Linked DNA regions of Homo sapiens: all the other regions are reported to be linked to region 3. Evidence: microRNA targets listed by miRTarBase, many of them from high-throughput screens and not tested one by one. Region 3 holds a microRNA gene; each other region holds the end of a gene's coding sequence.
What was found. Region 3 holds the annotated microRNA hsa-miR-6778-3p (UGCCUCCCUGACAUUCCACAG, at 2,859-2,879, shown strand). A microRNA usually pairs through its seed, bases 2 to 8, with sites in the 3' UTR of a target mRNA and lowers its output. Matches are read on the target gene's strand: a 7mer-m8 pairs with bases 2 to 8, a 7mer-A1 pairs with bases 2 to 7 and ends in A, and an 8mer does both.

Region 1: miRTarBase lists UGGT2 as a target of hsa-miR-6778-3p. The part of its 3' UTR that is shown has no 7-base or 8-base seed match.
Region 2: miRTarBase lists ARHGAP29 as a target of hsa-miR-6778-3p. Seed matches in the 3' UTR shown: 7mer-m8 at 3,286-3,292.
Region 4: the mRNA of NAGK is a reported target of hsa-miR-6778-3p. Seed matches in the 3' UTR shown: 7mer-m8 at 1,309-1,315 and 7mer-m8 at 1,444-1,450.
Region 5: the mRNA of MANEAL is a reported target of hsa-miR-6778-3p. The part of its 3' UTR that is shown has no 7-base or 8-base seed match.
Region 6: the mRNA of PPP2R3A is a reported target of hsa-miR-6778-3p. Seed matches in the 3' UTR shown: 7mer-m8 at 1,440-1,446 and 7mer-m8 at 1,310-1,316.
Region 7: the mRNA of CNNM1 is a reported target of hsa-miR-6778-3p. Seed matches in the 3' UTR shown: 7mer-m8 at 1,205-1,211, 7mer-m8 at 2,071-2,077 and 8mer at 2,103-2,110.

Annotation. Positions count from the first base shown.
Region 1 is chr13:95,798,426-95,802,595 of GRCh38, forward strand. It overlaps UGGT2 (UDP-glucose glycoprotein glucosyltransferase 2), which reads right to left. Exons shown (of 39, transcript NM_020121.4): 39 at 3,155-3,387. The coding sequence ends at 3,365. Among named protein-coding and RNA genes, the nearest start is that of DNAJC3, 120 kb to the left of the region's middle.
Region 2 is chr1:94,170,569-94,174,738 of GRCh38, reverse strand. ARHGAP29 (Rho GTPase activating protein 29) reads left to right here. Exons shown (of 23, transcript NM_004815.4): 23 at 1-4,170. The coding sequence ends at 870. Among named protein-coding and RNA genes, the nearest start is that of ABCA4, 52 kb to the right of the region's middle.
Region 3 is chr17:18,339,523-18,343,692 of GRCh38, reverse strand. It overlaps MIR6778 (microRNA 6778), which reads left to right and starts at 2,807; the gene lies at 2,807-2,879. SHMT1 (serine hydroxymethyltransferase 1) reads left to right here. Exons shown (of 12, transcript NM_004169.5): 6 at 2,880-2,961; 7 at 3,438-3,650.
Region 4 is chr2:71,078,232-71,082,371 of GRCh38, forward strand. It overlaps NAGK (N-acetylglucosamine kinase), which reads left to right. Exons shown (of 10, transcript NM_017567.6): 10 at 87-1,577. The coding sequence ends at 277. Among named protein-coding and RNA genes, the nearest start is that of NAGK, 12 kb to the left of the region's middle.
Region 5 is chr1:37,799,374-37,803,543 of GRCh38, forward strand. It overlaps MANEAL (mannosidase endo-alpha like), which reads left to right. Exons shown (of 4, transcript NM_001113482.2): 4 at 194-1,760. The coding sequence ends at 830. YRDC (yrdC N6-threonylcarbamoyltransferase domain containing) reads right to left here. Exons shown (of 5, transcript NM_024640.4): 5 at 3,572-4,170. Among named protein-coding and RNA genes, the nearest start is that of C1orf122, 6.3 kb to the right of the region's middle.
Region 6 is chr3:136,144,403-136,148,572 of GRCh38, reverse strand. PPP2R3A (protein phosphatase 2 regulatory subunit B''alpha) reads right to left here. Exons shown (of 14, transcript NM_002718.5): 14 at 679-3,530. The coding sequence ends at 3,407. Among named protein-coding and RNA genes, the nearest start is that of MSL2, 50 kb to the left of the region's middle.
Region 7 is chr10:99,390,781-99,394,950 of GRCh38, forward strand. CNNM1 (cyclin and CBS domain divalent metal cation transport mediator 1) reads left to right here. Exons shown (of 11, transcript NM_020348.3): 11 at 657-3,550. The coding sequence ends at 736. Among named protein-coding and RNA genes, the nearest start is that of GOT1, 38 kb to the right of the region's middle.

The sequences.
Region 1 (4,170 bases), not on the chromosome of region 3:
TATTTGGTAAATGGGGTTAACAAATAGAAAATGGGGAACAGCTGTCACATTACGATAACACTTGAAGACTTTAAAAAAGAGAGGTTCTAGAATGGGCTTACACACCTGACCGAGCCCCTCTAACTTACAAAGTTACCTGTAATTTTGGCCATCAAAGCCCTGGACCATCATGTTTCCTCTTCCTCACTCTGCCACCAAAGGTGAGATTTTAACCAATCAACTGGTTCTTTAGAAGTGAGTGGAGCCCCTTCAGTCTATGAAGTAACAGAAGTGAGTGAGACAATGGCTGGGTCATAACTTCTGCTTGTTGGTTTGAGCATGGGCCCATCAGCACCTTTTACTTCATCTCTGTAACTATGGATCTGAGACACATGATCCACGTGTTCATCTGACTTGTCCCGTACCTCCTGCCCATGAAAGTATTCTGTTGGGTCCCTGGAGCCTCTTCTGGGCAGTGGCAATTTGTTGTCTGGTTGCTTTTCAGGTGCTGGAGTCAGGACCTGGCACACAGCAACAAGCAGTTCTGTGGGCAGGTCCCACTTGTGTCAGACTACATGTTTAATATTAAAAGCCTGATTTTATAACCCCAGGCTGACATGGCTTTAGGTGCCTTTAGAAGTATTTGATGCTATCCTTCTAGGAGCTATGTTGTTCTCTAGGAGCTTGAGGGTAACTGGAGCCAAATGACAGGCATTTCCCAAATACAATCTTTTGGACCTAAGTGTTGGAGGTGGTATGCTGACTTTGGATTGTCTTAATGCTCAGATTCTGGGTCTACTTTCTACATAAAGCTCACACATCACTGTGGGTCAAACACAAATGCTTCTCATTCTTAGTTTAGATACACTGTTCTGACACTTTTTCTAAGAAGGCAGAAAGAGAAGACATTTATCACTTCCCATAGTTAGAAACTAGTTCCCCCACATTCCGCTGACCTCCACTACTTCTAGGATTTGATTTTTGTTAAAACTTGACATAGGGCCTGCAGCCGAGAACCAGAATTTAGGATCCTGAATATACCATGAAAGCCGTTGGACTATATTTGTTCAGCATCTCCAGGACAAGGAACTGAATGGCTTTCTCTCCAAGTGTTAGCAAATAAGACCTATGGTTCAGTTATGTAATGTGTCCCTGAGGAGGGTACATTTTTGTATGGCACAGCAGTTTGTATGCATGAGAGCTCTTGACATAACAGCATTTTTAAAACAAGCCATTTAATTAAAACATCTCACTGTAAAGAAATACCTTATTTATAAATCTGGATTTTCTGGTATAAGGTGTCACTCACCTGGAAATGTAACATGTAAACTGGCCACTCAGATCACAAGATGCAAACAGGGAGGGGGGCCATCAAGACTGTGTTTACATTGTTCTGTAATTTTAGCTTAATACTCCATGAAAATATGGGACCTAGAATACTGGAGAAGGCCATTGTAGGTAATAAAAGTAGGAATCCGGTGTCTCTGCCCAGCTGATCATCCTTTCTATAAGATTCTCACAGAAGTGAAGACAGGCTGGTAACAAAGGAAAACAAAGTACCATCTTATAGTTGAGGTTTGTGCCCCAGCCACCGCAGCAGACCTCTGGGTAGCTGGGTGGAGCATCTGGCCTGACCTAGAACCTTACAGAGTCTCACCTCTTACCAATCCCCAGCTTCAGCTGACTCCCAAGAGTGAGCCGGAGAGCACCATGACGCTGGCCGCCCCAGGACCATTTACTGCTCCAGCCTCTGAGTGTACCCTATAGGATACTCTGAACTCACAGGAATAACCTAGTTCCACCAGAGCAGGCCATAAATGGTGCACTCCATTTTAATACAGACAAACACGAACAAGTAACAAAGGGAGGATGACTGCAAGAGGGAGAGGCAGGCGCTCTCTTATTAGGAATGAATGGAGCTGATGGGAGGAGTAGTATTTTAACTCTATGGGCTGTTCTGTCAAACACAGAAGGATTAGCCTTGTTCTGAAAAGCTCACAGGAGTGAGCTTCGGCTCATGATGGAACTGTGTGTACAGAGCTGTCCAAAGATGGACCAGCCTGTCTCTAGAGGTGGAGAGTTCCCTGTTGTCCTGGAATTTCCAAGATGGCCTGAGGCTCAGCTTTACAGGCAGGGCCTTAGAAGAGGGGCCGGCACACTGGCTGGGGCCCAATTCTATTAAATGCTTCTCAAACTTGTCTAATTACAGAACCATCTGGAGAGCTTTTTAAACAATCATGATTTACCAAGCTTACTTTAGACCTAATGAATCAGACTCTCCACAGGATGAGGTCCAAATGGCACTGAGTTCTCTTCCAGTCCCATGATCCTATGATTTTAGAATAGTTGGATAGTTTTTAAACATTTACTATTATTCATCTATTATTAATACACATCAGAAAAACAAACTGGTTACATCCTCAACTTAGTTCCCATAAAAGTACCTAGTCCTTTTAAAAAGAGAATACACATATATCCCACATGCCCATAAATGCTTTTTATGACATAAAATTAGAAACATTAAAAAATCCAAATACCGCATAAGATTAAAACATTGTTTAAGATAAATGATTACTATGCAACAATATTACTTCCATTTTAAAACAATAGTTAAGGAATAAATGGGCTTAATTATTAATTATTGTTGTCTCAGAAGGAAAAATACAAAATAGGTTTCTGTAATTTTAAATGCATTTCTGTAATATTATTATTGTTATTATTTTTTGAGACAGTCTTACTCTGTCGCCCAGGCTTGAGTGCAATGGGCGCAATATCGGCTCACTGAAACCCCTGCCTCCCGGGTTCAAACAATTCTCCTGCCTCAGGCTCCCAAGTAGCTGGGATTACAGGCGCCCACCGTCACGCCCAGCTAATTTTTTGTATTTTTCGTAGAGACGGGGTTCTGCCATGTTGGCCAGGGTGGTCTCAAACTCCTGAACTCAGCTGATCCACCTGTCTTGGCCTCCTAAAGTGCTGGGATTACAGGTGTAGCCACTGCACCCAGCCTAAATGCATTTCTGTAATTTTAAATGCATTTTGTGAATAAGGAAATGTGGATGCACATAAAACCAGATACAAAAGGCTATAGTTTGATAAACACCAGCTAGTCCGGTACCTGGGCTATCTGGCAAAATGTCAAACTTTAACTGGTGATCAGGAAAAAGGAACAATCAGGTTTTAAATACTCAATGGTCATTTATTATATAACTTAAACTCATTCAATACATTAAATAACTGTTTTAAATAATTACAATTTTTTAAAATTAAAGAATATGTCACTGATCTTAACGAGACTTCCAAATCGTCTCAGCAGGGGCTCCAGACTTCCCCAGCAGGCGGCAGGTTTCCTGTCATGCTTTCGCCTTCCTTCTCATATACACCAGTGCTAGAGTTCATCATGTGTCAAAACTATAAGGGAGAAAAGTTTATTTAGCTTCTGGCATCTTAAACATAAAAATATCTTAAATATTACTTACATATGATGAGGAAGCACCGGTACTGACTGAGGATCCTTTATTTGCTAGTTCAGTACCTATATGCTTCATTACGCAACACGAGAATAGCTCTTTGTACACTGTGATGTCTATTATATTGTCTCATAACTACTGGTCTTTCTACCCACCTAGAATGTGAGCTCCCATGAGTCTATGAGGACAAGGAACATACCTTACTTATCTTTGTTATCTTTAGGATCTAGCATCCTGCCTGGCAGATAAGAGGTCTTGAAGAATACTAACAGATTATTCACTGTGAATACAGTATTCTACCCTTAATGTAATGGAACAACAGAAAGCAGAGGACATATTAATATATAGTCGTCATCTAAGATGGGAGGACACAGCACTCTGACATAGACATAAGTACTACATAAATGCAAGCACAATTCTGATGAGACTCTCAGAGAACAAAATGGTCTCTTCTGCATCACTGAGCTGTCACATACCAACTGATGTAAATCACTGAGAACTCAATATTTTCAGGCAGAAATTAAATAAAATACAATTTAAATGCATGCTGTTCCACAATTCAAGATGGCAGACTATATTTCTTCACTAAATTCTACTGGAAAGATAATAAATATAAAAAGGAAAAACAATAATGAGAACGAGGGAAGTGGTTACAAGACACTTGTTGGGGCAAAGTTACCAATGAATTTCAAGAAATGGGAAACAGGGATAGACTGCACGAAAC
Region 2 (4,170 bases), not on the chromosome of region 3:
TTGCTTCTAGACCAAGAGGCTGAATCAGCATCCCAAAAGATAGAAGATGGTAAAACCCCTAAGCCACTTTCTCTGAAATCTGATAGGTCAACAAACAATGTGGAGAGGCATACTCCAAGGACCAAGATTAGACCTGTAAGTTTGCCTGTAGATAGACTACTTCTTGCAAGTCCTCCTAATGAGAGAAATGGCAGAAATATGGGAAATGTAAATTTAGACAAGTTTTGCAAGAATCCTGCCTTTGAAGGAGTTAATAGAAAAGACGCTGCTACTACTGTTTGTTCCAAATTTAATGGCTTTGACCAGCAAACTCTACAGAAAATTCAGGACAAACAGTATGAACAAAACAGCCTAACTGCCAAGACTACAATGATCATGCCCAGTGCACTCCAGGAAAAAGGAGTGACAACAAGCCTCCAGATTAGTGGGGACCATTCTATCAATGCCACTCAACCCAGTAAGCCATATGCAGAGCCAGTCAGGTCAGTGAGAGAGGCATCTGAGAGACGGTCTTCAGATTCCTACCCTCTCGCTCCTGTCAGAGCACCCAGAACACTGCAGCCTCAACATTGGACAACATTTTATAAACCACATGCTCCCATCATCAGTATCAGGGGGAATGAGGAGAAGCCAGCTTCACCCTCAGCAGCAGTGCCTCCTGGCACAGATCACGATCCCCACGGTCTCGTGGTGAAGTCAATGCCAGACCCAGACAAAGCATCAGCTTGTCCTGGGCAAGCAACTGGTCAACCTAAAGAAGACTCTGAGGAGCTTGGCTTGCCTGATGTGAATCCAATGTGTCAGAGACCAAGGCTAAAACGAATGCAACAGTTTGAAGACCTCGAAGGTGAAATTCCACAATTTGTGTAGGGATGTCAAATTTCAGGGTTTTTTTGTTGTTGTTGTGTTATTTTGTGGTATTGTGCTTGTTTTGTGAAAGAATGTTTTGACAGGGCCTCTTTTGTATAGGACTGCCAAATCATGGGTTTTGCCTTTTGTTGTTGTATTTATCCTCTGTTGGTAATACTGAATGGTAGAATGTTTTGATAGGGTCACATTTGTGCCTCACTGGAATTATCTTTAAATTCTGTATTTTTAAAGTTGTGAATAAGATAGGTGGATTCGTATTTTTTAAAGTTCAGTTGACTTTCCCCACCAAATGGTCCATTTGAATGCATCCCTAATATATGATATAGTCTCAACTAATAGGTGCAATTTGGGAAAATCAGGTTTATTTTTTGGAGTGGAACTGTTATAAGTGCTTATTTATAAAAGGAATGTTTCTGAATGCAAGTGCCTAAAAAGATCTTTGTTGGTATGCATATGTTTTGTCACACAATTTTATAGTGCATCTTTCACCATTTGTGCTTTTTTAAGATACGTATGTAAGCTCTTATTTTTCAATTGGCAATTCAGTTAATTTTTAAATGTTTACATAATGGCCAGAAGGCTTGCAAATCTGTATTTAATTGCATTTTAATTAATTGCCAGTTTTTACATGTGATAGTCAGTTGTACAAAGAAAATGCACTTAAACCTGTTTCTAAATTATATATTCAGTTATATTATATTTGGCTTTAGATGGTTTTAATACATTTGATAGTTTTTCACCCCTTGGCTTTATTTTATATAAACTTTTGTTTTTCAGCAGTTCTGAACTTTTTAGTATTTTATAAATGGTCCAAAAAATGCCTGTTTCAGAAGTTTTTGAATTCAGTGCATTTCCTCTTGATTTGTCTGGGTTAAAACCATTCCTTTTGTATGAAATGTTTTGACTTAGGAATCATTTTATGTACTTGTTCTACCTGGATTGTCAACAACTGAAAGTACATATTTCATCCAAATCAAGCTAAAATTTATTTAAGTTGATTCTGAGAGTACAGGTCAGTAAGCCTCATTATTTGGAATTTGAGAGAAGGTATAGGTGATCGGATCTGTTTCATTTATAAAAGGTCCAGTTTTTAGGACTAGTACATTCCTGTTATTTTCTGGGTTTTATCATTTTGCCTAAAATAGGATATAAAAGGGACAAAAAATAAGTAGACTGTTTTTATGTGTGAATTATATTTCTACTAAATGTTTTTGTATGACTGTGTTATACTTGATAATATATATATATATATATATCAACTTGTTAAATTATTTCATGTTCCCGTGGCTTCTTTTCAGTTGTTGCCTATTACAGTATGAGAGTTTAAGGTTATTAACCATTGGCTTAGAAGTCAACACCTAGGATCATACATCCGTTGACTACAATGTGGAATGAATTTTATGGAAACCTGTTTTATAGTTCTATGTGATGTAAAGGTCTAGGGAGCAATAACCAGCCCTTTTTTTTCTGAAGGCTTGTTTTTAGTCCTCATTGTACAAAATATAAAATAATCATATTGCTATGAATACCTAAAAAGAAAATTAGAGCCCATGTGTATTGAGCCTTCTCTGTGTGCCAGGAACTTTGCCAAGGTGCTACATAGATTATTTTATTTCAAGTTCACAGCAACCTATAATGGGTGGGTAAGCATGTTATTATTTCTGTGTTACAGATAAGGAAACTAAGGCTTAGTTAAATGACTTGCTTCAGTGTTCCACAGGTGTAACAGGTGGAGTCAAATCTCAAACATAGGGCTGTCAGATTTTGATGGTTAGTGCTCTTAATGACTGTGATTACTAAATAATATCTGGTAGTTTTTAACAATAGAAAATGCAACTTTAAAAAATTTTTATTGTGGTAAAATACACATAACATTTACCATTTTTAAGTATATTGTTTGAACCATTTTTAAGCATATAGTTCAGTGGCATTAAGTATATTCACATTGTTTTGCAACCATGAGCACCTATTCATCTCCAGAACATTATCATCATCCTATACTAAAACTTAGAAAATGTACTTTTAAACTTCTTCAGTTCTCTTTTAATATATGGAGCCCACCCAAAGGTTATATCATGTAATAAACTCATTTCTCTGTTTTCCCTCACAGCTTAAAAATGAGAATTTCACTTTTGGGTCCTTTCTGCCTTTAGGGCTCCCTGGCACTTTGTCCAGCGTAGAGCCTTAAGCCTCTAGATGCTTTCTAGTTTCCTGGGGCCCTGAGGCAAGTATCTCTTGAGAAGAGGTTGCTATTTCTAGAGGATCCACAGTGTGCACTGTGTTGTGCTATCTAATAGTGTGGTGGAAATCATTTATCCAGAAGTTGTTTTTTGCAACATGGAAAGATACGTGACCAAAAGGAAAGGGCAACAGCAGGAGCCCTGTTAGTGCTGCCAGAACACCAGGAAGCCTTGTGGGAGGCGTATTGTCCAAGATGATGCGTATTGTCCAAACGACTCAGAAGAAGTCATTTCTGAAGGGTTGATCATAACTTCCCTAGCCATGTTTTACCTACAGAGAACTTAGTTAGAATTTATGAGTACAGTATGTTAAATTACTTTTAGTGTACCTTAGGCAGTGTATTTGTTTTGATACAGAGACAAAGACTATATGATCCCTGAGACTTGTTGCCTAGTGAACTCACAAGCAGATAGAATTGTACCTCAGTTATTTGGGTGATTTAAAGATGGTACTATGGCTACACTATTCCCAGCTATCGTTGTGTTACAGTATTTATACAACTGGAAACATCTCTCTAAATGACAACCATTGTATATTGTTAAATAACTTATAGTCAGTGGAATTCTGTGGGTTTTTCTTTCCTACAGGCAGGAAATTATGGTGATGTGTTGATATGATTATATATGTAGACTATTCAGTTAACATCTAGGAGTTAGCAAATTTGCTACATTCACAATCAGTATGTAAGTCAGTTGTATTCCTAGATATCAGCAACTAACAGAAATGGAAGTTTTTAGAAAGATCTCTTCAATATCATTAAAAAATACAAAATACTCTACCTAAGAATAAGTCTAACAAAAGATGTACAAGATCTTGATGGAGAAAATGTTAGACCATGTCAGGAAGCATTTAAGGAGATCTTAAATAAATGTAGTACTCCATAATGTACACGAATTAGAAGACTCAGTCGTGTAAAGATGTTCATTTACATTTGTAGATTCAATGTAATCCCAACCAAAATATTTTTTGCATTATTACCTCTATCTACTGTGTGTTTCCTTAAGACAAGGGCATTCCTACGTAACCATAGTACAACCATCAAACTTAGGAGATTGACAT
Region 3 (4,170 bases):
CCAACTCAGCCTCCCAAAGTGCTGGTATTACAGGCATGAGCCACCGCATCCGGCTGACCCCTTTTTTTTTTTTTTTTTTTTTTTGAGACAAAGTTTCCCTCTTGTCGCCCAGGCTGGAGTGCAGTGGCACGATCTCAGCTTACTGCAACCTCTGCCTCCCGGGTTTAAGCGATTCTCCTCCCTCAGCTTCCTGAATCGCTAGGACTGCAGGTGTGTACCACCATGCCTGGCTAATTTTGTGTTTTTAGTAGAGGTGGGGTTTCACCATGTTGGCTAGGCTGGTCTCAAACTCCTGACCTCAGGTGATCTGACCCCCTCGGCCTCCCAAAGTGCTGAGATTACAGATGTGAGCCACCACGCCTGGCTGACCCATATGTTTATAGAAGTTTAATAAAATGAACTTCCTAAGAGATGTGTTGCCAGAAAAGAAAAATTATTTTAAATTTTACATCGAGATCTACAATCTGTTTGGAATTGACTTTTTTTTTTAAACAAATTATATATAATTATGGGATGCACAGTGATGTTATGATTTGTATATACAGTGTGGAACTATTGAATCAAGTTAACTAACATATCCCACTCCTTAAATATTTATTATTTTTCTTCCTGTCTAACTGCAACTTTGTACCCTTTGCTCAGTATCTCTCCATTGTCTGCCACCCTCCAGTGACTGGTAACCACATTCTACCCTGCTTCTGTGAGTTTGATTGTTTTATTTATTTATTTATTTATTCAATTTTAATTTTTTTTTTTTGAGACAGAGTCTCACTTTGTCGCCCAGGCTGGAGTGCAGTGGCACCATCTTGACTCACTGCAACCTCCGCCTCCTGGGTTCAAGTGATTCTCCTGCCTCAGCCTCCCGAATAGCTGGGATTACAGGCATACGCCACCACGCCTGGCTAATTTGTGAATGTTTAGTAGAGACGGGGTTTCACCATGTTGGCCAGGCTGGTCTCAAACTCCTGTCCTCAGGTGGTCCACCTGCCTCGGCCTCCCAAAGTGCTGGAACTGCAGGCATAAGCCACCACGCCCAGCAGTTCGATTGTTTTAGATTTCACATAGAAGTAAGATCACATGGCCAGGTGCGGTGGCTCACACCTATAATCTCAGCACTTTGGGAGGTCGAGGTAGGAGGCTCACTTGAGTCCAGGAGTTCGAGACCAGCCTGGGCAACATGGTGAAACCCCATCTCTACAAAAATATAAGAATTAGCCGGGTGTGGTGGCACTGCCTGTGGTCCCAGCTATTCAGCAGGCTGAGTGGGAGAATCGCTTGAGCCTGGGAGGTAGAGGTTGCAATGAGCCGAGATGGCACCACCGCACTCCAGCCTGGGTGACAGAGTGAGACTCTGTCTCAAAAAAGAAGTGAGATCATGCAGTATTTGTCTGTCTGAGCCTGGCGTATTTCACTTAGCATAAGGTCCTCCAAGTTCATCGGTGTTGTTGCAAATGACAGAATTTCTTTTTTCAGACTGATTATTATTACATTGTTTATATATATATGTGTCACATTTCCTTTGTCCATTCATCTGTTGATGGACATGGCTTTATTCCATAACTTGGCTATTGTGAATAGTGCTGCAGTGAACATGGGAGTGCACATGTCTCTTTGACATACTGATTTCAAGTTCTTAAGATATAGATTCACAAGTGGGATTGCTGAATATGGAATTGATTTGTGTGGGTGAGGCGGGCATCCAGATAACATTTTTGTCCAAATGGATGCCCAGTTGACCTAGTGCCATTGATTGAAAAGGTCATCCTCTCCCCACTGCACTGCAGCGTCACCACTGGCATGGATCCAATGACCTGTGTTGTGTGTGGTTCTGCTTCTGGTTAAGCCAGATGCTCTGCCCTTCCATGAATGCGTGCTGCCTTAATTACTATAATTTGTCAAGCATTTTGTGACACAAAATACACAACGCAATGATGTTTTGTGTAAAGGTTTGGTATGATTTTCCTTTTATGGTTTTTGTTATTTACATTTCATTTTCTATCTTTCTTGCTTTTATATACTTTTTGGCTTTTTTTTTTTTTTTTTTTCAGATGGAGTCTCGCTCTGTTGCCCAGGCTGGAGTGCTGGAGTGCAGTGGCACAATCTCGGCTCACTGCAAGCTCCACCTCCCGGGTTCACGCCATTCTCCTGCCTCAGCCTCCCAAGTAGCTGGGATTACAGGCGCCCGCCACCATATCTGGCTAATTTTTTGCATTTTTAGTAGAGACGGGGTTTCACCGTGTTAGCCAGGATGGTCTCGATCTCCTGACCTCATGATCTGCCCGTCTCAGCCTCCCAAAGTGCTGGGATTACAGGTGTGAGCCACCGCGCCCAGCCCCTACTTCTTGTTTTTCAATGTTGTATCCAGTGACCTTGCTAAATTTGCTTATTCTAACAGTTGGCCCCTAGCATCTTGATTTTCTAGGTATATTGTGTTGTCTGTGTGTAATGTCAGTTTTTAAATTTCTTCTTTCCTAATCGTTATGCCTTTTGTTTCTTTTTCTTGCCTCATTATACTTGGAATAGAAGTAGTATTAGCAGGCATTTTGGTCTTGTTCCTGAAGGTAACCATTTTGGTTTCCATTGTGTGGTCCCGTCACATTTGTTTCATTCTGCAGGTGCTTTTTGGTTCCTTCTCAGCAGGTAGTGCCCCAGCAGCAGGGCTCACTACAACCCTGGGACTCCTCAGGGACTCCTGGGTCTGTGAGCCATACTTGGTTGAGCAGGCTGAACACACCAGTATCCATCCTGTCTCACCCTCAAGTCCTCATCTAGGACATCATTCCTCTTGTCATGGTGGGTGGAGCCAGTTCAAGTGGGAGGACAGGAGGCAGGTGTGGTTGGAGGAAGCAGCCTGAACCTGCCTCCCTGACATTCCACAGGTGAACCCAGATACTGGCTACATCAACTATGACCAGCTGGAGGAGAACGCACGCCTCTTCCACCCGAAGCTGATCATCGCAGGTGATGCGCGGGGCGGAAAGTCACCTTGTTCACCAGTAGCCTGGTGCCTCTTACAGAATGAGGATGGAAAGATGTTCGCACCCTGTTGAGCCCACTGCTAGTTTCTGCCCTGGATAACTGAGTTTCTGGGGTCTACATATATTAGTTTCTTTCAGGATACAGATGTGTGTTTGCTGCTTTTTGTGCTATGTAGATTAAGATGTGAGACTGTTCTCAGAGAAGCATCTAGAAATGTCAGGCCCTGACTGCGCTGGCAATAGTAGTTGGGGCCATCTCAACCACCAAGACGTTGAAGAGTTAGAGTGGTTGCCTTTAGCACAGAGGTGCTTTTTGAGGGCATTCTCCATTTTTGCTCTGAGACTTTAAGGGAAGAAATCTCTGGGCTTTCAGATCTGCACATCTAGAGGCCACTGTGAAGCCAACTCAGCTGGCCGGTGGACATCTCTGATGCAGCTGTGTCACCTTTCCTGTCTCAGGAACCAGCTGCTACTCCCGAAACCTGGAATATGCCCGGCTACGGAAGATTGCAGATGAGAACGGGGCGTATCTCATGGCGGACATGGCTCACATCAGCGGGCTGGTGGCGGCTGGCGTGGTGCCCTCCCCATTTGAACACTGCCATGTGGTGACCACCACCACTCACAAGACCCTGCGAGGCTGCCGAGCTGGCATGATCTTCTACAGGAAAGGTGAGCTCCCGAATGTTGGGTACAGATGGGTACCATGGTTTACATTTCTCCTGTGGGGGTTCAGATTCAGTTGAGGGAGCTGGGAAAAACTCTGACCTGGGATCCTTGGAAAATATTAAGATCCCAGTCCCTTAAAGAGCTGCTTAGGAAGGAGCAGTGACAGGCTTTACAGAAAGGATTCCCGGCCAGGTGAGGTGGCTCGCGCCTGTAATCCCAGCACTTTGGGAGGCCGAAGCGGGCAGATCACGAGGTCAGGAGATCAAGACCATCCTGGCTAACACGGTGAAACCCCGTCTCTACTAAAAACACGAAAAATTAGCCGAGTGTGGTGGTGGGCACCTGTAGTCCCAGCTACTCAGGAGGCGAAGGCAGGAGAATGGCGTGAGCCTGGGAGGTGGAGCTTGCAGTGAGCTGAGATTGTGCCACTGTACTCCAGCCTGGGCGACAGAGCGAGATGCCGTCTCAAAAAAAAAAAAAGAAAGAAAGAAAGGAATCCCCAGAAGGAGACTGTCAGCCACAG
Region 4 (4,140 bases), not on the chromosome of region 3:
CTGGGCGTCCTTGTCTGTCTTCCTTCCTGGCCCCAGTACAGGTTGCTGTTCTCCTCTTATCTCTGTCCTTGTGTTCTTCCCTCCAGGTTTTCTTCTGGCGCTGACCCAGGGCAGAGAGATCCAGGCTCAGAACTTCTTCTCCAGCTTCACCCTGATGAAGCTGAGGCACTCCTCCGCTCTGGGTGGGGCCAGCCTAGGGGCCAGGCACATCGGGCACCTCCTCCCCATGGACTATAGCGCCAATGCCATTGCCTTCTATTCCTACACCTTTTCCTAGGGGGCTGGTCCCGGCTCCACCCCCTCCAAGCTCAGTGGACACTGGGTCTGAAAGGAAGGAGTCTTTTGCTTCCTTTCTCCTTTTTACAAAAACAAACATAGAAGAAAATAAATGCACTTTATCCACTCCCCAATTGGACTGCATTATCAAACACATGTGCTATGTACATCCTCAGTGCACCTGCCAGCAGATATCCTGGAGGGCTCATGAGTGAATTTAGTCCAAGATTTAAAGCCCTGCCCCCAGGTGCTCAGCCTGTGATCTGTATCCACTCAGCATGCACTTGGGCAGATGATTTGTCTGTGTGCTACCCTTCCCCCCATATTACCATACATATGCACTGTGTGGCTGCCAGTTAATCTGTGACCTGTTTTCTCCTGTCGTGTCAAGTGGGTAACGATCCCTGGCGACCACAGTCAGCAGAAACAAGTGCTCACCATTCAGAACATCACAGGGAGTAACCTTAGGTATATCACACCCTCTCCTGAGACTCCCAGCAAGATTTAGGGGCTAGAGTACAATTCTAGACTGGGAGCATCTTTACCTCACTGGATTTAGTAACTGCAGGTAAGCAGGACATTTTGAAGTTTTTCCTATGAATGAGTTTTTGAAAGGTTATGAGGATGGCTGAGATCCAAGAAGACCAACTAGGTACCGCTCACCTCGGTAGCTGACCTATTCCTGGCTACTACTAGCCTGGCTCTGCTTACAGCGTGACACTATGTGTTGTGTGTTCCTGGGAATGAGGAGCATCAGTGAAGAGCAGACATGATTCCTGCCCTCTGGGTACCATAGTTCAGCCAGTGAAGGCAAACCTGAAGCTTCGGTTCCACAGCCTGTGCTGCTTGGTGAAGACTAAGGACAGGAGTCTCGATCCACAATAGCTGCCTCTCCAGGTGTTTTATTAGAGGCATGTGGATCATGTCCTGCACATCAGTTCTCCAACTTACAGACATCAGTTATTCTAGAGTTTGTTTTAAAACACGGTTTTGGCCGGGCACGGTGGCTCACGCCTGTAATCCCAGCACTTTGGGAGGCCGAGGCAGGTGGATCACGAGGTCAGGAGATTGAGACCATCCTGGCTAACACGGTGAAACTCCATCTCTACTAAAAAATACAAAAAATTAACCGGGCGTGGTGTCGCGCGCCTGTAGTCCCAGCTACTGGGGAGGCTGAGGCAGGAGAATGGCATGAACCCAGGAGGTGGAGCTTGCAGTGAGCCGAGGTCGCACCACTGCACTCCAGCCTGGGCGACAGAGCGAGACTCTGCCTCAAAAAATAATAAATAAAAATAAAATCAGGTTTTTGTCTACTCCCCTCCCCTGCCCTAAGGTATCTGATGATAATAGGTTAAGGATGGGATGGGGAATTTTCATTTCTATTATACTGAACAGCTTGAGTAATTTCTGCTGCAGAGGTCCAGCATCTGCACTTGAGGGAGTGCTATGCTACAGCTGGTAAGTTCTGATTAGGCCTTCTAAGACATCTTGAATACTATCTTGTTGCCCAAGTCGGATGATGCTGTTCTTTCACAGTGTAGCATTCACGTAGAACAGAATAGTAACAGCTCTCCTTCCATCAGCTCTAGCCCAGTGCTGCAAGCTGGAGCTTTGAGCAATAAGAACTCCAGCCAGGTCCCTTCTGAAAGAACAGCCAGCCATCTTCACATCCAGCTATGACCAAATCACTGTGGTCTAGCACTCAGCAAGTCTCCAGTCCAGCACCTGGTAAAAAGCTTGCAGAGAGAACAAGGACACAGCAGAGGCATCTTTGCTATATCCCACAGTCTTGAAAAACTGTTAGGTTATTAATGAGTGGTGAGCTTTGGAGATTTTTTTAAATAATGCTCTCAGGATGAGGATCAAACAGCATTTTGGTGAAAAGAGTTTATAACTACTGAGACCTACTTATGTTCTTCAGAATATGGCCATCACTTTTCCTTAGAATTGTCTAGACTGCAATTCCAATTGGACAGTGGAGGTTTTAGTGGAGGAGCACATCTTGATTTTTTTAGTCCCAGCATAGAAATGTTGAAAAAAATGCTGAAAAAAGGTAGTATTAAAGTGCATAAGGTCAGATGTGTTCCTAGTTCCTGTCACATTTAGGAGATGTGATGAGGTCACTTCCCAGTTATTAAAGCTCTATTAGGCTGCAGTGCAGAAAATCGCAAGTGATTTTTTAAAATTTATTTTAGAGGTGAGGTCTTATTCTTGCCTAGGCTAGAGTGCTGTGGCACTATCATAGCTCACTGCAGCATTGAATTCCTGAGCTCAAGTGATCCACCTCAGCCTTCCAAGTAGCTGGGAGTACAGACATGTACCACCACACCTGGCTAATTCTGTCATTTTTTTGTAGAGATGGGTCTTGCTATGTTGCCCAGGTTGGTCTCAAACTCCTGGCTTCAAGCAATCCTGCTGTCTTGGGCTCCCAAAGTGCTGGAATTATAGGTGTGAGCCACCATGCCCAGCCCAAAAGTGATTTTTGCTGAGTTTCTCCCCTTTTATTATTTTATTTTATTTTATTTTATTTATTTTATTTTATTTTATTTTATTTTATTTTATTTTATTTTATTTTATTTTATTTTATTTTATTTTATTTTATTTTATTTTTGAGACAGAGTCTCACTCTGTTGCCCAGGCTGGAGTGCAGTGGTGTGATAACGGCTCACTGCGACCTCTGCCTCCCAGGTTCAAGTGATTCTCCTGCCTCAGTCTCCCAAGTAGCTGGGATTACAGGCATGCAACACCACGCCCTGCTAATTTTTTTGTATTTTTTAGTAGAGTTGGGGTTTTGCCATGTTGGCCAGGCTGGTCTCAAACTCCTGACCTCAGGTGATCTGCCCGTCTTGGCCTCCCAAAGTGCTGGGATTACAAGCGTGAACCACTGTGCCCGGCCTTCTCCCCCTTTAATTTTAAACTTATAGTGTCCCCCAACAAACTATCAGAAGAAATTCATGGGATTTTGTATCACCAAGGCATTAAGAGATGTATACAGTCCTCTCATCTGAGCCTGTAACAGCCCTGTGATGAGACAAGAGAGCTTGGAACAAGCATTGGAATGAGGCTAGCACTGCCTTATCTCCCTGTGTGATCACAGGGATAGTACAGCTTCATCTGTCCCTTTCATTCAGCAAACATTTATTGAATGTCTTGCAGGTGTGATGAGTACTCTAAGCATTAAAAGTAAGTACACCAAGGCCAGGCGTGGTGGCTCATGCCTGTAATCCCAACACTTTGGAAGGCTGAGGCAGGCAGATCACGAGGTCAAGAGATCGAGACCATCCTGGCCCACATGGTGAAACTCCATCTCTACTAAAAATACAAAAATTAGCTGGGCGTGGTGGGGCGCACCTGTAGTCCCAGCTACTCGGCAGGCTGAGGCAGGAGAATCACTTGAACCCAAGAGGCGGAGGTTGCAGTGAGCCGAGATCACGCCACTGCACTCCAACCGGGTGACAAAGCAAGACTCCGTCTCAAAAAAATAAATAAGTACACCAGGCCGGGCACAGTGGCTCAAGCCTGTAATCCCAGCACTTTTGGGAGGGTGAGGTGGGTGGATTGCTTGAGTTCAGGAGTTCAAGACCAGCCTGACCAACATGGTGAAACCCTGTCTCTACTAAAAGTAGAAAAATTAGGTGGGCATGCTAGCAGGTGAGGCATGAGAATGGCTTGAATCCAGGAGGCAGAGGTTGCAGTGAGCCAAGATTACACCATTGCACTCCAGCCTGGGTGACAGAGTGAGACTCCATCTCAAAAAAAAAAAAAAGAATATATCATCCACCTCTTCAGGGAAGTTACATTCTAATAAACCCTATTTACACAAAACTACATGTAACTATAGGATTTTAAAATGCTGTAAATAGG
Region 5 (4,170 bases), not on the chromosome of region 3:
GTGAGGCTTAGGAATGACAACTGGAGAGAGGAAGGAGGGAACCAGGTTCTTGCTTAGAGGCATGATGACTCCAACTGTGGAGACTGACTGGCTCCAGAACTGGGCTGTGTTGCATCCGTATCTCATCCACGGGAGGTCCTACAGCTGTGCTGGTCTCTCCCATCCAGCTGAGGCTCTTCTTTCTCCTTCTCAGGTATGGCTCCCATGGTGCATTTTACCGCTATAAGAACAGCATGGGCAAGAGCCTCCCACTCTTTTATATCTACGACTCATACCTGACGTCCCCTGAGGCCTGGGCCCACCTCCTGACACCAAACGGGCCCCATTCGATCCGCAACACGCCCTACGATGGGGTCTTCATAGCGCTGCTGGTGGAGGAGGGCCACACCCACGATATCCTGGCCGCCGGATTTGACGGCATGTACACCTACTTTGCCTCCAATGGTTTCTCCTTTGGTTCTTCCCATCAGAACTGGAAAGCTGTGAAGAACTTTTGTGATGCCAACAACCTCATGTTCATCCCCAGTGTGGGGCCTGGCTACATAGACACCAGCATTCGGCCCTGGAACAACCACAATACGCGCAACAGGGTCAATGGCAAGTACTATGAGACGGCCCTGCAGGCGGCCCTGACAGTGAGGCCCGAGATCGTTTCCATTACCTCCTTCAATGAGTGGCACGAGGGCACCCAGATTGAGAAGGCCATTCCCAAGAAGACACCCACCCGCCTGTATTTGGACTACCTGCCTCACCAGCCCAGCCTGTACCTGGAGCTGACACGCCGCTGGGCGGAGCACTTCATCAAAGAGAAGGAGCAGTGGCTCATGTGAGGGGCCTGTAAATGGGCGTGAGGTGCTGATGTCCTTGCCTTGCTGGAAGATGTCACCATGTGGGGTTCAGCTGAGGTTGTAGCCACTCACTCGTTCCCAGGTCAGAGGTCAGCAGATGGGTGTTTCTGGGTGGGCCGTCAGGCATGGGCCTGTGCAACACAGAGCCCGTTCCTCAGGCGAGTGGTGCTGAGGTGCTCTGTGGTGATGGGAACGGCAGAGGCTGGCAGGTGACTGAACTTAGCCCAGGGCAGCTCCACATCCTGGGAACACTTTCATGTAACCCCTTCTAGTTTTGAACTCTGCAGCAGGCTGGTGCTGTGTAGTGGCCACCCAGTCACCACCCTTGGAAGGGTGTCAGGGTCTGGGCTCGCATGCACCCTGCTCCCTTCTGCCAGCCTGCATCCTCTCCTCAGGCCTCCTTCCCACATCATCTGTCTTCTCTAAGTTAGGGAACCATATTTGAGACTTTCAAAAAGGGAACTTCTAGGTTTAAGCTCCTCCCAGTAGATTCCTGAACCCAATTATCAGGAAATCATCCTGAGCACTCACAGGTTCATTTAACACTCACTCATCAAGCACCTTCCTATGTGCTAGGTGCTGGGGAAAACTTGACCAAGGAAGAGTTCCTGTCCTGAAGCTTCCAGGACCCAGCTTTCCTTTTCTGGTGTGGCCTTGTAGCTAGTGCCTGGGCACAGGTGTTTTTCTTTTTGCAGTTTTACCTAGTGCTGGGAGTTCAGTTCTTTTTCCTCTAGAAAAATACCTCTGTGCTCCAGAGCCTAATTTTTCCCAGATGCATATTTAGCTCTAGGGAGAGGACTAGGAGGAAATCCCCCTCCCTTTAGCTGCCTGAACTGACTGAGGCCCACTCACTAGAGCCATGTTCAGTGCTACTGTGATTAGTAGTAATTAAATATGAACTGGTATTCTCAAGTAAGCATTCCTTTTGCTCTCTTTAAGACCTCACAGATTCTGACCTTAGATTCTGTGACAAACTGATACAGGAGCTGGGCTGGCTATGGCTTTACCACAACAAGTAGGTTTGCTTAAGAAATTACTAAACAATGGCTGGGCGTGGTGGCTCACTCCTGTAATCCCAGCACTTTGGGAGGCCGAGATGGGCGGATCACGAGGTCAGGAGATCGAGACCATCCTGGCTAACAGGGTGAAACCACGTCTCTACTAAAAATACAAAAAAATTAGCCAGGCGTAGTGGTGGGCGCCTGTAGTCCCAGCTACTTGGGAGGCTGAGGCAGGAGAATGGCGTGAACCCGGGAGGCGGAGCTTGCAGTGAGCCGAGATCACGCCACTGCACTCCAGCCTGGGCGACAGAGCGAGACTCCGTCTCAAAAAAAAAAAAGTTACTAAACAAGGCTGGGCGTGGTGGCTCACACCTGTAATCCCAGCACTTTGGGAGGCCAAGGAAGGTGGATCACCTGAGGTCAGGAGTTCGAGACCAGCCTGGCCAACATGGTGAAACCCCATCCCTACTAAAAATACAAAAATTAGCTGGGCGTGGGTGCCTGTAATCCCAGCTACTTCTGAGGCTGAGGCAGGAGAACCGCTTGAACCTGGGAGGCGGAGGTTGCAGTGAGCCAATGTGGCACCACTGGACTCCAGCCTGGGCAAGAGCAAGACTGTCTCAAAACAAAAACAACAAACAAACAAACAAAAAGAAAACACAAAAAACATTACTAAACAAGATTTCTAGAGGGAATTAACAAACCAGTGCTTATTTACCAATAAACTAATACGCTAATTGCAGGAACCCTGATTAAAGCAGGCCCCTGTTAACACAAGATTCTTAGGATATACTTGGAAACAGGTGCATTGGAAACCACTGTACTGAGAAGTTTATGGGCTCAAGACTGAATTGGAAGCTAGGCGTGGTCGCTCATGCCTGTAATCCCAGCACTCTGGGAGGCTGAGGTGGAAGGATGAGTTCAGGAGTTCGAGACCAGCCTGGGCAACACAGAGAGACGTGTCTTTAAAAAAGTAAAAAATGGGCTGAGTGCCTTGGCTCATGCCTGTAATCCCAGCACTTTGGGAAGCCAAGGCGGGTGGATCACTTCAGGCCAGGAGTTCAAGAACAGCCTGACCAACATGGCAAAACTCCATCTCTACTAAAAATACCAAAAAAATTAGCAGGGTGTGGTGGTGCACACCTGTAGTCCCAGCTACTCAGGAGGCTGATGTGTGAGAATCACTTGAACCTGGGAGGCGGAGTTTGCAGCGAGCCAAGATCGTGCCACTGCACTCCAGTGTGGGCAACAGAGATTCTGTCTCAAAAAAAAAAAAAAAAGACTGAATCAGAATTTTGGGAACTAGGGTACAAGAGGGAAGGGGAGGAAGGAGGAAATAGACCCCAGTGGTCACCTCAAGGACACCCAGCCCCAGTTAGGTAACTGATATTAAGCCCCACCAGAGAGATGAGCAGGCCTGGCCACCTGGCTTTGGGGCTTAGCTGGGGAAACCAAGGCAGGCAGGGACAGCTGAAAGGGTTGGATGTTGACCTGTAGTAATTTACAGAAGGTAGCAACACTGGCTTCATTTAACACACACACAATCTGAAAAATACTAAACATGGGAAGGCCAGGGGGCAGAGGCAGCCATTCTCACACACTGCTAACAGCAGTGTAACTTGACTCAGTTCTTTTGAAGGCTAATCCATACTGAGAGCCATAAATACTTCCTACACTTTGACCTACTCTCCTAAGGAAATAATTCAAAAGAAGAAAAACAAACCATTTACAAATATGTTTAATAGCAGCATTTCTTTAAAGAAAAACAAAGTTCAAATGCCCAATAATAATTATGTTTAACACTTGGTACACATATAAATAGACAAAAGGCTGCGGAGAACACTGGATTTAAATAAAGGTGTTATGGGTATAATTAACTATAATTTATTTTATGAATAAATAAGAAAAAAGTCCCTGGCTATAAAGGATAGTGGAGGTTTATTTCCCAATATTCTTCCATTTGGACTGAACCCCTGCCAACTAAGCAGACATCCCACTATTACACCAAAAAGACTGCTCTCCCTGCGAGCAATTACAATACATGACACCACTAGGCCCAATGGCTCAGAGGGAAGAGTGGCCTGTGGCTCTTCAATCTTTATCCAAACCTGGTTCTAGCTTCAGGAGCCTTTGGTCACCTGAGACTTTTTATTTATTAATTTTTATGAGACGGAGTATTGCTATGTTGCCCAGGCTGATTCTGAACTCCTGGGCTCAAGCAGTTCTCCCGCCTGGGCCTCCCAGAATGTTGGGATTACAGGCATGAGCCACCACACGCAGCCACCTGAGACTTTTTAAACAGCACCAGCACTTCTGGCTGG
Region 6 (4,170 bases), not on the chromosome of region 3:
AAGTCTGCATTTCCGGGAGGAGGTGTAGTATGGTCCTAGGGATAAAGAATTCCTTTTATTTCATTGTATTCTTAGTTAAAACAATTTATTGGTGACCTTGTTGAAGAAGAGTAAAAGTTTTATGGGAATCAGATGAAAAATAAATTGTCCATAACCATATCATAGATAAAAAACAGAAATGCTTTAGAAAATACTAAGTTCAAAGTATGGTATTTTATACTTTTCTCTTTTTAAAAAAATTAAAAGCTAGGCACAGTGGTGTGTGCCTGTAATCTCAGCTACTTAGGAGGCTGAGGTGGGAGGATCACTTAAGCTCAGGAGTTCGAACTCAGCCTGGGCAACATAGACCTTGCCTCTGAAATAAAATTTAGGTACCCCAAAACATGCCGTTACACATTCTTTTAAAATAATGCATTATAGATGAGGCTAAAGTCTACCTTGATTCCTGTGAACTCCGCCTCATTCACAAACCCTGGTCCTCTTCCCTATCCCCTGAAGAAATCATTTCTCAGTATATTGTCATTACTACAAAGACCTTTCTTTGTAGTTTTCACATGGGCTCAAAGAGTTATTCTCTGACATTCAAGCTTGTTTACAGTGTTACTCTTGCAGACAAAAAAATGAGGTGCAAATATGATTAAAAGCACAAGTGTGTAGTAATTACCTTAATGAACATGATTCATATTTGACAACTTTATTTAGTTTTGCTAAAAGGGAAAAACAAAGTCATGCAGCCTTCTCCAAACACATCTTAACATTTCAAAAAGCTGAGCAAATCTCATTTGATGAATCTAGAGTTTTATAAACACTTTGAATGGTACACAGTGACAAGATGCAGGGAAGATATATGGAATTTTATTAGTTTGATTACCTTGGTAATGTTATGCTATTAAACTCATTTCTCATTGAATTAGCATTAAGGTCATGATAACCCTCAGCTTTTATCAAGGGGCCTGGGATATTATAATAACTTGAAAATTCCAGTTTGGCAGTAATGATTATACTTAACCATGATCTTTACCAGAAAGTCAAATATATTCTACCTTAATTCCTCAGAATTCACATTCCTTGCATTCAGCTCCAAGGAAGGAGTACAATAAAACACATTCTTATAATTCCTGAAAATGTGATAATGTGGGTAAATTACAATAGCCCATTTTAAATGGAATGGTATTGATGGATGTACTTTTATAATAGAGACTTTGTAAGAGAATGGGGTCTTGCTCTGTCGCCTAGGCTGGAGTGCAGTGTCGTAATCATAGCTCACTGCAGCCTCGAAGCCTGGGGCTCAAGCGATTCTCCTGCCTCAGCCTCCCAAGTTGGTAGGACTACAGATGTGCACCACCATGCCCAGCTAAATTTATTTTTTGTAGAGACGGAGTCTCACTATGTTGCCCAGGCTGGTCTTTACTCCTGGGCTCAAGTGATCACCTCCCTTGGCCTCCCAAAGTGCCGGGATTACAGGCATGAGTCACCATGCCCAGCCAATAATTAAGAGACTTCAAAAACCAGATCAAAGTGAAAGCAAGAGGACTTCAGTAAGGAGAACCAAGGTAAAAAGGTAAAGCCAAATAGTTAAAAAAAAAAATGTATATTGTAAAATTGAATTTTTACTTTTTGGTGAATCTTATTAGTTTAGATCATTATGGATAATAAAACATTTAAACCATATCTGGCTTCTAAGAAAAGTATTTTTTTTTTTTTTGTATTTCTATCTGAAATGAAATAATTGCTTTTCTTCCCTGGTAAAGGCTGGATGGATTGGTAGGAGATTTCATTTATCACATAAATAATCTTAATCTTAATAATTTATCAGTGTGTTTAGATTTTGAATATTGTGTTTCCTAAAAATTATTTTTAAGCTTTTAATTCTTTTGTGTGAACTATTAGATAGTTGCAATAGTTACTGCTTTCTGTAATAGTTAAATGGAAGATCAGTTCTAATCATGAAGATAAAATGACAGGGAACTGGGAGCTTGTGACAGGCAGGATTCCTAGGATTGTTAACTCTCACTGTACTGTACCTTGTTTATAGCATATTTATTTCCTAAATTCTCCTTTTCTTTTTGCCTACCATAACTCTAACCCAAGGTTCATTTCACTGCTTGGCCTTTATGCCAGCAAGGAGGGAACCTAGGTAGGGTGGAAAGGGAAGCTATTCTTGACACTTTCAGAACTAGTTAAAAAAAAAATCTAGGGGAAAAGTTGATGACTGACAGATGGATATTAAGTTGCTTGGGGGTTTTACTTACATCAGAAATGTCTATCCTTTTTAATAGTTTCTTTTCAAGGATATTATAGGATTTGGCTGGACTGTGGCCTGCTGAAAAATGTAGGATTCTGTAGTGAATACATCTACAACTACAGTAAATAACAGCTTTCTTTTATAGCTGTATCATTTTCCATTTCCTTGATAAATACTGAGGTGGATGAAATATCTGTAGTAATTGTTTTCAACATGAAGTAAAGAATAACGTTGAGGCCTTTACTATTAGCTAGTCTAATACTCCTGGGAGGAAGGAATATATCTATCTAGTAAGAATTTTAATGTATCATTATTCCTTTATGTCTTCAAGCAGGCCTTCTGATAGGAAGTGAAAACAGTTATCAACTAATTTGGATATTAAATACATCATTCAATAGTTCAATGAATAAAAGATAAAAGTTAAAAGGGCTTTTTCCAAGTATGAGTCAAATTCTATACTTCATTTAAGAAGTGTTTTTTTATCTTGAGATTTTATATAAGATCCACAGTCAGGGAGGTTACCAGAGCTTGCCAGCAAAGTTGGAAGGCCCAGTGGTTACAATACCTGAGGATGTAAAGTGACTAGTAGTTTGGCAGGTAACTGTGAAATTACATTAAGCCAGGTAAGTTAAAGATCTTTGAACTCCAGTATACATAAAAGAAGTCTCTGAGATGTTTTGGCAGTGCTTTTATTACTAGGGCTAAGTCAATTCTGGAGGCCCTTACTACTTTTTCAAGTTCCAGAATTTTCTGACTCAAGTTTTCTGCAAGTGAAGGTTTCTTCTAGGCTCCATAGGAGCCCGGAGGGGACTCAGGGATGCCAGCCAACACAGAGGCAACTTCAGTCACCTGTGTAGAGAACCGTGCTTGGTACTGTCGCCAAGAGATCCTTGGTACATTCAAGAGTGTAGAGTGCTGACTTTGGAAGGCGATGGTACCACTTCTGAGGAGAAGCTCCGTAAGAGGTTTGAGGCAAATTGGAGGAGCCTCCTAAGTTAAATGTGTATCCAGACCTATTGCTTAAAAACAAAGTTCCTAGTGCAGATGATACACACTTGGAGAAATCAAAGTCTTTAAAAAGCAGTATGCAAACGAGAACATCTCTTCACAAGAAAGAAACATTTAAAATACACATCTTCGTTTCATTGTAGACACCGGCAGCTATTCTTCATCCACTGATTGAAGCTTTCCACATTTCTCTGGAAGGCTTGCACTTAATATTTTATTGCTTTTGTTTCCAAATTCAGAGGGAGAGGCAGGTTCATCTGTTTCATAATCTTCAAAGCTGAAATAACAAAGCAAAAGTGAATTAACTGATTGATTGATTAAAGTTTGGGTAGAAATCAATATGGCAAATCCGAGCCTCAAGACCAGCCCACAAAGGTACCTTGAATTGCTAAATGGAGGCCGTGAGCAACTCAACTGCCGTGAAGGAGGCAACACTCTAGAGCAGAAAACACATTCTTCTCCCTGTTCCTTAAAGCTTAAGTCCATGTCAGAATTTGTTGAAAATGTTCCGTATCAAGCTTTCCCTAGGGTGGTTGGTGGGAGTGAGAGAATTACAGATGGTGCTAGGTAAAGAAAAATTTGAGGTCCATGAAGTATGAGCATTACTTGACCTTATTAAAAGTGGTTTCCACTCAGAGTGGCAAACCTTTTTTTTTTTTGAGACGGAGCCTTGCTCTGTCACCCAGTCTGGAGTGAAGTGGCACGATCTTGGCTCACTGCAACCTCTGCCTCCCAGGTTCAGGCGATTCTCCTGCCTCAGCCTCCTCAGTAGCTGGGACTACATGCATGCGCCACCACACCTGGCTAAGTTTTGTATTTTTAGTAGAGATGGGGTTTCACCATGTTGGCCAGGCTGGTCTGGAACTCCTGACCTCAGGTGATCTGCCCACTTTGGCCTCTCAAAGTGCTGGGATTAC
Region 7 (4,170 bases), not on the chromosome of region 3:
CTAATATTTTCTGTCTAGTCCTTTAAAGAATTGGTGTCCAGGAGACTCAATAGAAAGAGAGCAATCTCCTCCACAGATGGAAGTCAATGGTGGAGAGAACAAGGTGAAGATATTCCTTCCTAAAAACAGACCTGGGAACAGATTGCTCTCTCATCCTTGAGGACAACTATGTAATTATGCCCACCTGCCCCACTGCAGAAGGGAGGTTGCTTCAGAGCTAGAGAACGCAGGTCCCTGGAAATGGCTTGCAGCTACAGCCACCAACCCTGATTCATGGGACATCAAAGTCTATGAGATTGGTCCTCTCTGAGGGTGTCTGGCAGTCAGAGGGGCTGGCCCCCAAGGGGCGCAGGAGGCATGGGCCTGAGGTGTTACATGGGCTTTACTCAGTCCCCTCCAGGAAGTCTCAATTCCAGGCACCAGCCTGGGTTTGTGACTTTTCAGAGATGGCATCTTATGTGGAAAGTACGTCCTAATCTTTCAAGATGTAAATATGCCAATATCAGCACCAGCATACAATGCCGGTTAGTTCTAACCAAGCTGTCAAGGGCTTTGTCTCCATTTCTGCTTCTGTTTTGAAAAGAACTCAGACTGCCAAGCAATTATGAATGTTCCTCCAGTGTTACAGGCTGATACTTGCAACTTGTTTTTTTCAGGTGGCCAAAAAAGGAAGAGGTCACCAGAAGGAGAGAGAACCTCTGAGGACAACTCCAATTTAACACCTCTGATCACATGACAGGGCAAAGCCAGCATTCACTGGGTGTGTGAAATTCCAGAGCTTTGGGGGAGAATCCACCCTCCCATCATCTGCTTCCCCCAAGGCCTCCCACAGGTGACAGAATGTTCTGCCTTCCCTTCCATCTCTTCACCCCTAGCTGTCAGTTTGGCAGATTTTCCCTCGTTACCTCCAGTTCGACTCAGAACCTTGACATGGCCATAACAGAAGGAGGTGCCTCTGATAGAACATGCTAGAAATGGTCTTTTCCACAGCATAGTCTGGGACTGGAAAAGAGATGTCTGACTGCAAGCTGACAATGCCACTCTGGGACCCCTGATGCTCTTCTTTGTTCTTTGGGTCCCCTGATGCCATAGGAGACCTATCGTCTTGGAACTTGCCATTCTTTCCTCCAGAACAAAATGTTAACTTTCTAACACATTTCATGCATAGCTTGGCTCAGAAGGTGCCATTGGCAGACAGGCACATGGGAGGCTGGAGTAGGAGGTCTGAAGATTAGTTCAGGGGATGGACCAAGAATTTCCCCCAGAGCTTTAAAGAAGTGGGACTCAGCCATGTTGGCGCGTGATTGACATTACAGCACAGAAAACTGTTAGTGACTGGTTTCCTGTTAGATAAGGGTTCCAGCAGCCTGGGGCAGTATGTCTCAGCTGGAATGGAAAGAATGTGAGATGGAACCTCAAGTCACTGTTTTTACCAGGGACACATCTGTTTTGGCTCCCAATCAGCAGTCTTCAATCGATCAATAATTCTGCTCTGGAAGAGAAGGAACAGGGAGCAGAGAGACCCAACTGGGAGCCAGAGATGGAACTTCAGGTCTTAAGTGCAAATCAAAGCAAAAAACAAACAAAACTTACATGGAAAAACTGTAAGTGCTGAAAGCAAGTTTAGCCATGACAAACCAAAGAGTGCCCAGGTCAGCCAAGAAAGATACATAATCTCATGGGACTTCAGTGGGAGTTACACAGGAATGTTGAAGAATCATTCTTCTTTTTCATGCATTTGTCCTTCTCCCACCCCCTTACTACACCCTAGCAGATCAGCTGAGTGTACTTTATTCCAAGAACTTACTGGATCTCTGGTTTTTCTCCTGAAGTTGGGGCAGGTGCAATTCCAAGCATAACCACCAGATGGCAGAGTGACCGCGCATACCTGCTTCCAAGAATAAAACAGTTCTGAAAAGCAACCGCAAAGCCGGGCGCGGTGGCTCACACCTGTAATCCCAACAGTTTGGAAGACCGAGGCGGGTGGATCACTTGAAGTCAGGAGTTTGAGACCAGCCTGGCCAACATGGTGAAACCCCATCTCTCCTGGGCATGTAGTCCCAGCTACTCGGGAGGCTGAGGCAGGAGAATCGCTTGAACCTGGGAGGCAGAGGTTGCAGTGAGCTGAGATCACACCACTGCACTTCATCCTAGGCAACAGAGCGAGACTCTGTCTCCCCCCGCAAAAAAAAAAAAGAAAGAAAGAAAGAGAAAAGAAAAGAAAAGCAACCACAGCCAGCCTTAGGGAAAACTTGGAAGTAAGTGAAATTTGTCTTCAGAATAACTATCTCCCTTTCTGATCTGTCTCCTACTCTTTAGATGTTCTCAGTCAAGTACTCACTGAACTCATTGATCGAGTGCTGTCTGCTAAATCTCCAAACCATTCCCAAACCTTTCCCCGTAGTATACCATCCAGCTTCCCTCCCCTTCCTCCAAAACCCTCCCTCCCACCTCCCCACACCCATTGAGTCATTCACAGGCAGGAGGGAGACTGATCATTCCTCTGGGTTATCTGCATCTCAAAAGAAAATGCTTACCCACAGGAACTGTTAACTCAGGGGTTCTTAACTTGGGGTCCATCACCCCAGGGGGTCCATAGTTGGACTTCAGAGGGTCTATGAAACCCCTAAAACTGTCAGTATTTAATGTATTTATTCTTGTATGTTTTTTCCAGAGCATTAAAGCTTTCATAAGGTTCTCAAAGGTCTCAGACCTACAAAGAGTTAAAACAAACAGACAAACAAAAAAAAACACTACTATTTTAAATAGTGGAACTTTCAGCCCAGCGTTTCTGCAATGCAGAGTGAAGTGGATACTGGGCAGTTCGAGACAGGTTTTTAATCATAAGTGGTCTTTTCAAATGTCCATCAATTGATGGGGAAGGCTGGCACCCACCAAGAAGTGGAAGTCCTCAGAAATTCTCGGCACACCCTAGAGTATTGTACAACCAACACCCCCACATAACTTTGTCCCCTCTTCCCCAACAACCCAGAGCAGGTGTTGCAGACAGGAGGGCCACAGCGTGTGGAAGTAAAGACTTTGGAGCTAGAGAAGCCTTTTCCAGCAATGATTATTGACTTCACCACACCCCTTGCCTGGCCTGGCCTGAGGCTCAGCAGTGCATGACTTCTCGTAGATAACTTCACAGTCATCCAGTCCCAACACCTGCTCTTGCCTGGTAGGAACAGGCGAAGTGTCAGCCCTCAATGTTGGGTACTTAGACCCAAACCAATAAATGGTGAGTTTTGAACAAGAACTACCATCATGCAGGCTTCTTGCCCAGCTGACCACTGGCCCCGGGGTGCCTGCCTGGCTGGTCTTCATCACCTGAGGCCACCAGGCTCAAGCCACTGCTGTTGCATTACACCCATCCCTTTGCAAAATCCCTATGGAGCCTGTCACCACTCCCCTCCCTATATACCCCCACCCCACAAAGATTTTCTTCAGGTTAAAAAAAAAGTTTAAAAAAAAGATTTTAAAATAAAGCATTTATGAAGGCTTAATAAATTGTAAATAATTTTTAAATAAAATGAAAATGCCTTTCCTGGAATGTGGCTGTTTTCCTTGCCCCTGGAATCTTCTGACGTGGCTTCATTTGAGATGCAGGTTGAGTGATGCCCACGTGTGATGATCTCACCTGTGCACCACCTGCCTGAAGAGGCATGCCGCTCCGGGCCAGGTGTGAGGCTGCGGTGAGGTCACGGGGAAGCCTTGGCACACTACTTTGGGAGGCCAGATGGTAAGATTTTGCAGGAGTGAATGCCAGAAATGAGAAGTAAAACCCAAATGAGAAGCCAGTATGCATAAAGACGAGGAAGGAACTAAGACGACAGTGAGAAGGGCTGGCATTTGCTGAACCCATGTGATGGGTGAGGTGCTGTGCTGGGTGCCGTCCAAATTCAGGGTCTTGGGGGCTAAACCCAGACAAGCCCCTGAGACAGAATGTTGGTCACACTAGCTCGCTTCTGCAGAACCTTCAGAAAGGAGTCCAAGTGGCATGACTCTGGCAGTTTGCAACCAAAGGCTAGGGAACGGAACACAAGAATGGGCCAGGCCTGTTGGTCAGTTTTAAGCCGATGCTGGAGGGAGGGAACAGCCAGGCAGGTGGGAAGATGTGTTTGGGCATATAATACCTGTGTGGAAGGAAGGCTGAAATCTGACACCTACTAC